Linked DNA regions of Homo sapiens. The protein of the gene in region 1 interacts with the protein of each later gene in a pairwise test. Each region holds a gene or a part of one and is shown on either strand. Other genes may lie near its edges. The genes, in order: KLHL6 and FH.

Region 1 (3,922 bases):
ATGCGTGTAGTCCCAGCTACTTGGGAGGCTGAGGCAGGAGAATCGCTTGAACCTGGGAAGCGGAGGTCGCAGTGAGCTGAGATCGCACCACTGTACTCTAGCCTGGGCAACAGAGTAAGACTCCGTCTCAAAAACAAACAAACAAACAAACCTAAACTCCAAATTTTCTTGTAATTTTTATTAGAGTAAAATAAACCTATAAATGTATTCGGAAAGAATTGGTCCTTTTAATAATATTTAGTCTTTCCATAAAGGAACTTGGTATATTTATTTAAGTTTTCTTTCGAAACTCTTAGTAAAGTTTGTTAGTTTTCTTTATGTTGCTGGTTGCTGTTATTGCTAGGCATTTACATATGTTTTATTACCATTGTGAATGGCATTATTTTTCCATGACTTTTTTTTTTTTTTTGAGGCAGAGTTTCGCTCTTATTGCCCAGGCTGGAGTGCAATGGCACAATCTCAGCTCACTGCAACCTCCACCTCCCGGGTTCAAGCGATTCTCCTTCCTCAGCCTCCCAAGTAGCTGGGATTACAGGTGTACGCCACCGCGACTGGCTAATTTTTGTATTTTTAGTAGAGATGGGGGTTTCACCATGTTGCTCAGGCTGGTCTTGAGCTCCTGACCTTGTGATCCCCCTGCCTTGGTCTCCCAAAGTGCTGGGATTACAGGCATGAGCCACCACGCCCGGCCGTCAGGTTTCTTTATATGCTCCATTATAATCTTTTGGGACCACAATTGTATATTCAGTCCATCATCGATTGAAATGTCATTGTGCTGGGCATGACTGTACTTGTGACCGTTAATTTTAGATGTCAAGTTTACTGGGCTAAGAAATACCTAGCAACCTGTTAAAGCATTACCATGGGGCGTGTCTGTGAGGTTGTTTCCAGGAGAGATTAGTGAGTCTGAGTGGACTCGGTAGAGAAGATACACTCTCAGTGTGGGTGGGCACCATCCAATCAGCCAGGGGCCCAGAGAAAACAAAAACAGAAGAAAGGTCGATGTCTCTATCTCCTGAGGCTGGGATACAGTCATCTCCTGCCTTGAACAACAGGACTCCAGGATCCCCTGCCTTTGGACTTCAGGACTTACACCAGTCTCCCCACCCCCTGGATTCTCAGGCCTTTGGCTTTGGACTGAGAGTTATACCATCTTCTCTGGTTCTGAGGCCTTTGGACTTGAACTGAGCTCTCAGCAGTCTGTCATGCGACTTCTCAGTCTCCATAATCACGTGAGCCAATTCCCCTAATAATTTCCCTCTGCTATGCCTCTCTAGGTATCCTTTTGGTTCTGTCTCTCTGGAGTCCATCATCGACTGAAATATCATTATGCTGGGTATGACTGTAATTGTAATGGTTAATTTTAGATGTCAAGTTTGCTGGGCTAAGAAATACCTAGCAACCTGGTAAAGCATTACTGTTGGGCGTGAGAGAACGCTAACTGATACGCTCCTATAACTTCCCCAGGATATCATGGGATTTTAATAATGACAGTTATTACTACTTAACTGAGACATGCAGAGGTAATGAAAATACTTCAGGATCCACCGTTAGATGCACGGTCAGTAGATGTTGGGCTAATCTGAGACGTGCTATGGCAATTCGGTGTAGACCCACCCTGACTCATCCTCTGAGAAGATGCTGTTGATGGAGTTTTGGAAACCATTTCTTCTGTGCCCCCAAAGCATATTCGAAACAATAGACATTTTTTTTGGTGGGGGAAGACATGAAAGTTTGCCATGACGTTGTTTTCCCCTGGGTAGGGAGGAGGATGAAGATAGACGATCTGCAGTGCCGCCAGAAATGAGAATGTCAGGGATAAGTGGGGTTTCCATGGTTTACAAAGCACGGTTGTTGGATCATTGTGGGGTCTCAGACTCCTGGGAGGAGGAAGTGGGAGGATCATAGACTGTCTCCTGTCCATCCCCTCGCTGACGACTTGGGTTATTGAGCCACTAGGAGTACAAATGTGAAGCAGGAGGATTATAGACTGTCTCCTGTCCATCCCCTCATTGACGACTTGGGTTATTGATAGCATTAGGAGTACAAATGTAACAGCCACCACCGGAGGCTTCCTGCTCACGGATATGAGGTGGGAGATGCACCAAAATAAACACACAGCACTCACAGTGGACTCTGAGAGGACACTCCTCTTCCAGAACCCCCTCCCACACACCTATTCTAAGTAATTTCTAACCCTGTGATTACTCACAGAAAGAAGAAGAATAGAAGTTGCTGGCATTTGTAGTAACAGGATGAGAAAGTGCGAGACTTCCTGTTATGTGTGTGTGACAGCTGGTGATAAGTGGAGGGCCCTGCACAGGAAATCCGCTCAGCTCCTGCAATGGGGCCTGCCTGACACTTGGGCGCTCCTTCAGTCTCGATGTTGATGGCAGGACAAAGGGGCGCCTGGACCATGGGTGATGTGGTCGAGAAGAGTTTGGAAGGGCCCCTGGCACCTTCTACAGATGAGCCCTCCCAGAAAACAGGAGACTTGGTCGAGATCTTAAATGGGGAAAAGGTCAAATTTGACGACGCGGGACTCTCCTTAATTCTTCAGAATGGCCTGGAAACCCTGCGAATGGAAAACGCTCTGACAGATGTCATCTTGTGTGTGGACATTCAGGAATTCTCCTGCCACCGCGTGGTGCTTGCCGCAGCCAGCAACTATTTCAGGTCAGCATGCCTAGGACCAGAGTCAAATTGGGTGCAAGTTGCAAGGAAGAGGTGTGTTAGTGTGAGAGCCCAATCTTGAACAGTTGGCCATGATATTTATGGTTTACATATATATTAAGGCTTGTGTGTCTACTTAAAATATAAGAAAGGACACTATCACACTTTATTTTATTATTTATTTATTTATTTATTTTTGAGACGGAGTTTTGCTTTTGTTGCCCAGGCTGGAGTGCAATGGCGCAATCTCGGTTCACCGCAACCTCTGCCTCCTGGGTTCAAGCGATTCTCCTGCCTCAGCCTCCCGAGTAGCTGGGATTTGCAGGCATGCACCACAACACCCGGATAATTTTGTATTTTCAATAGAGATGGGGTTTCTCCATGTTGGTCAGGTTGGTCTTGAACTCCCGACCTCAGGTGATCCACCCGCCTCCGCCTCCCAAAGTGCTGGCATTACAGGTGTGAGACGCTGCGCCCGGCTTATCACACTTTAAATTTTAGGATTTAGGCCACATTAAAAGAGAGATTGGCATCATTTAAAAGCAATGCTTACATTCTATAGTAAACCTTTTGTGTATATTTCCTTGTTCCAAAGGATGGAAAATTACTGAAGTCATGGGGACTTTTTTCCCCCTTGGTCTGACTGGTGTTGGAAACATAATGTTGTCTTTGTTAATCAACAGACATAGAGAAAAAGGATGTGGCCCCTCTTCTGGAGTTGTCAAATGACTTGTTACAAATTAGGGGCTTCTTTATGTGTAGGCAGTGTGGGGAAAGGGAAAGCAGTTACAAAGATGCTTTAGATGGGAGAGGCCTCTAGTTACGATAAACTGGTGATCTCATAGTGGGAAGGCCTGAAGTCAGGAGACTTGGTTCCTTCTTGACAGTGAAACTTTAGGCAAGTCACAAAGTGCTCTGAATGTCTGTTTCATCATCTGTAAGGTGAGCACAATGATGATCACCTTTCAGGGCTGTCATAATTAAACAAGAGCGTGAAAAGGGTCCTACACAGTGTCTAGCATATAGTAAGTAGATGCTCAATATATCTTTCTTGGAATTCTTTTTCTGATTCTGCTTGATTCAGCTAAGGATGACTTATTGAGTGTTTCCCATGAGCACGTCCCTGGGGTAGGAATTTTATAGCGCTGGGAACCCAGTGAATACACCTGATCCAGTGTTCTCCATATCAGCATGGACATGGGGGAACCAGCCTGCAAGGGCAATGTGGATAATGAAGAAAGTATTTGGG
Region 2 (3,922 bases), on another chromosome or scaffold:
ATCAGTTTCACTAATAAATCGAAGTAAAACACACAAATAAATATGTGGATGTTCCTGGGCATCAATTTTTCTCTTCTATGTACAGGAATAATAATAGGACCTATCTCATAGGGTTGTTTTTGAGTGTTCCAAGAATTAATACATATAAAGTGCTTTGAAAAATTCTAGAACATAATATGTGTCATAGGTAATTTTTAAAAGGGATTAAAATAACCTATTTATAAAAAGGCTATTAATTTGGGTTTTGAAAAGTTAAACTGTATGGTAGAAATAAGAGACATGCTCGAAACAAAAATGAAACAAAAAATAAAATAAAATGAGAAATATACAGCAGGCAAATAATAGCCAATATGAAATTGGTAGAGAAATATCAATATTAAAAAAAGTTTAAAAGGACAAGCAACAATAACAATAAAGAGGGGCACCACACAATGAAGAAAGAGATGATCTATGAAGAAATGATAAACATATGTTCATTAAATAATTTTGTGTAATAGCAAAGAAAAATGTTCTTTATTAAGAAACTGGATAAATAAAATATTTCATATTCATGTGATCCAATATGATTAATTTTAAAAGATCATGGCTATATCTTAAAAGCATAGAGTTCAATTATGCAACAGTAAAACTTTAAAGTAAAATATTAAAACCATTGTTTGTATATTAGTGTATGAAGCAAAAAATACACAGAACTGAAAGGATGCATCAAAATAATGATATACACAATAATGATACCTGCTGGGAAGGAGGAGAACAAAAACAAAACGTCATTCCATTATTAGCAATGTTTTAAAGAATTTGCATTCAGTTTTCTAGTGTGTTTTGATTGTAGTTCAACTATTACAATCTCATTTGAATTTTTATATTTTAAATATGTGTCAAATTTATAAGTCACAAAATAACATAATGTTACCAAAAGGTTTGGCAAGTTTGTAAGTTTGACTCATAAATTTGGCTTTGCAGGTTCTGGACTTTTGATTTTAAGAACATCCGATCGCTCTCTCTTTACTGTCATCTGGTTCCAAGCAATAGAAAAGAGAAAAGATAAAACTGTGGTTCAGATGCAATTTTATATCAATTCCTGCTTTTCTGTAATCAACTATTATATTAAAACAATATGCCTTTAATTTGAAAATGTATAAATTAGCTATGCAAAAAACTGGGAGAACGATATACAAATAATAAAAATTCCGAGGTTCCCTATAATTGTGTACGTCTTCCACAATACATTAAAAAAAAAAAAAGAGTTCTGAGGGTATAGGCTAAGAAGAGAAAGGAAACGGTAGCGATCTCAAAATGATAAGTTAAAAGAAATAAGTAAGTAGCTTATTTTTCAGTTGTGGGATTATGAATAATTACTATTTCATTATCTACACTTTGCTGCACTTCCCAAAATTTCTACACAGAAGATACAATCTGGAAGAAATGAAGAAAGATTTCAGTAGTAAGAACGTGTAATGAGTGATTACATGATAAATAAAACAATAAATATTTCTTTCTAGGATATTTCACCAACCAAACACGACCTGATTCACCAACTAATACTCCCGCCTTCTAACAGCCACACGTAAAAATCAGACCGGCTCCAAGAATAACCTGAGCCTCCTTTCCCATAATTCCCTTCTTTCTAGTTTCCCATGAATCCGAAGGCCTTACACCCCACACTACTACTAGAAAGTTAACCCGCCCCCTCATTCTTTACTGGTCATTCACGATTGGTCCTGCCCCACCTGTCGGTGTGAGGCTGTTGATTGGATAAGAGCGGAGGCCGGTGGGCGGAACGGTTTCTGACAACCGGCGTGGAGGCGTGGCCACAGCCGCCCAGAAATTCTACCCAAGCTCCCTCAGCACCATGTACCGAGCACTTCGGCTCCTCGCGCGCTCGCGTCCCCTCGTGCGGGCTCCAGCCGCAGCCTTAGCTTCGGCTCCCGGCTTGGGTGGCGCGGCCGTGCCCTCGTTTTGGCCTCCGAACGCGGCTCGAATGGTGAGCGCAGGCCGCCATCCCCCGGCCTCCCCGCAGTGACCTTCAGCCCTCCTGCCTGCCGGCCTGGGCGCCCGCGACTTGGCGGGAGAGATTCCCCGGGCGTCCGGGCCGCGCCAGACTCTGGGCTTAGCGCCCGTGCCGGCGTGGCGGGCCTCCCGGCCTCGGGACGCCTCTTCCGGCGCAGGGATGGAGCCGCAGCCCGGGAGAGCGCTTGGGGAGGGACGGGGGCTGTCAGAGAGGGTCCTACTGGGCCCGCTCCCGGCGCCTCCTCGGAGCCGTCCGTGGCGGGCCGAGGCCGGGGCGTTTTGAGGTAACTTCGCTGCTGCTGGCGCGCAGGCCCCCAGCCCCGGGGCGCTGCCCTCAAGGACAGTGCCGGCGTGGGCGGAGGGTGCTGGGAGAGGGGCAGCTCCCGCACCGTCCTGCCCCATAGCTGGGCCTTGCTGGCCGGACACTGGCCGCCTGTGCATCTAGTGGTTTCTGAACTGTGGTTTGTTTCGCCAAGGGGCACTGCACTGCTTTCAGGCCCTCCAGGTGGGGTAGAAGGTTCTTCGAAGATTTTACTTCCTTTGAAATTGCATGCTCAGTTTGTTAGGCTGACTATGGTTTCCCCCGTAATTGTTGTAAAACTCTTCAATTCCGAATACCGCGGGCATAGTGTTCTGAAGCATGTTTGAGCAGATTGGCTAGGAGCTGAATCGGTACTTTTTATTCAGAAAGCCAGCTAAGAACTTAAAGATCCAAGTTCAGGTTATGACATGCTTACGTAAGTCATTTTGCTCTTTAGAGTGTCATCTTTAGGAATGCAGGCTTTTAAAAAGCTTTAAATACATATGTATATTGTTAGGAAACGTTTGAGAAATGATAGTTGAAGAGTTACAGTTCTGCACTGGTGTAGCATGAGGTTTGCAATCTAAGAGATGTGATTTCAAATCCGTATGCAAAGTTGAAATACTTACAGCTACTCAGCAAAACTGCACATGTGAAAATACCATGTAGCGAGTGCTCATTAAATAAGTGCCCCATCTAGGGTATTTCAAAGGGCCAGTACTTTTTCTGGACTCTAAACTTCAAGATAATTTGATTGGGTCACTATACCTACGATATACAACTATACTACAGAATCAGAGATGTTTTGTATTCCTCGAACTCCCTGCTCGAATAATTTTAGGGCATTTTAAAACCTTTACATATTTTTAAATTTATTTATTGTTTATTTAGTGTTTTGTAAAGGGAAGCAGACTGGAGAACTTCTGAATCTATCCTGTTGATGCAAATGTCAAAAAATAGCAGCACTACTTTGCTCTTAGAATTGTAATGTTAGCTAAAATCAGATGGAGGTAGTTTTTGTTTTTTCTAGTTCTGGTACTTTTTGCCCTCTAACCATTCTCAGGTCCAAAATCTCTGTTGGTTTTGTTAAAAGTTCTTCCTGTTGCTAATGTTGAGAATTTCACATAACCCTTGATGCCCTAAGGTACCTTTTATTTAAAAGAACACATACAAATTCATTCAATAGAAAGATACTGTTTATTGAGTGCCTTCCACTTACCAGGCCCTGTAAATAAGACAGTCCCTATGGGGATAGGGTTTTACAGGCAGTGTTTTATTCTTGTCTTTAGTGGAGATTAAATAAGCAAAGCAGTTAAATAAGCAAATAAATCACACATGAATAATTAGTGTGATCATTGATTATTAAAAATGCATTAAAAAGTGCATTGAGAATGAGAATATTTAACAGGCAGACCAACTGTGATACTGACTTGGTAGCATGATGGCATATATATAGTGTTTATATATGTAAATAATGTTTATACATTTCTTATATAAATGAATATACATATGTAATATATGTGAATAATGTTTATATATAAATAATGTTTATAAATTTCAAATAATCATTCTTAGACCGTTTTCAAAAGTTCCCAGTAAAATAAGCATTAA

Evidence for each region.
Region 2: the proteins of KLHL6 (region 1) and FH interact in binary tests that used the Homo sapiens proteins (3 or more experiments, as listed by UniProt).

The regions. Positions count from the first base shown.
Region 1 is NC_000003.12:183,554,115-183,558,036, reverse strand, and holds the start of KLHL6 (kelch-like protein 6), read left to right. Parts: upstream 1-2,330; 5' UTR 2,331-2,383; coding exon 2,384-2,676; intron 2,677-3,922. UniProt on the Homo sapiens protein: Involved in B-lymphocyte antigen receptor signaling and germinal center formation.
Region 2 is NC_000001.11:241,517,653-241,521,574, reverse strand, and holds the start of FH (fumarate hydratase, mitochondrial), read left to right. Parts: upstream 1-1,819; 5' UTR 1,820-1,852; coding exon 1,853-1,984; intron 1,985-3,922. UniProt on the Homo sapiens protein: Catalyzes the reversible stereospecific interconversion of fumarate to L-malate. Experiments in other species have demonstrated that specific isoforms of this protein act in defined pathways and favor one direction over the other.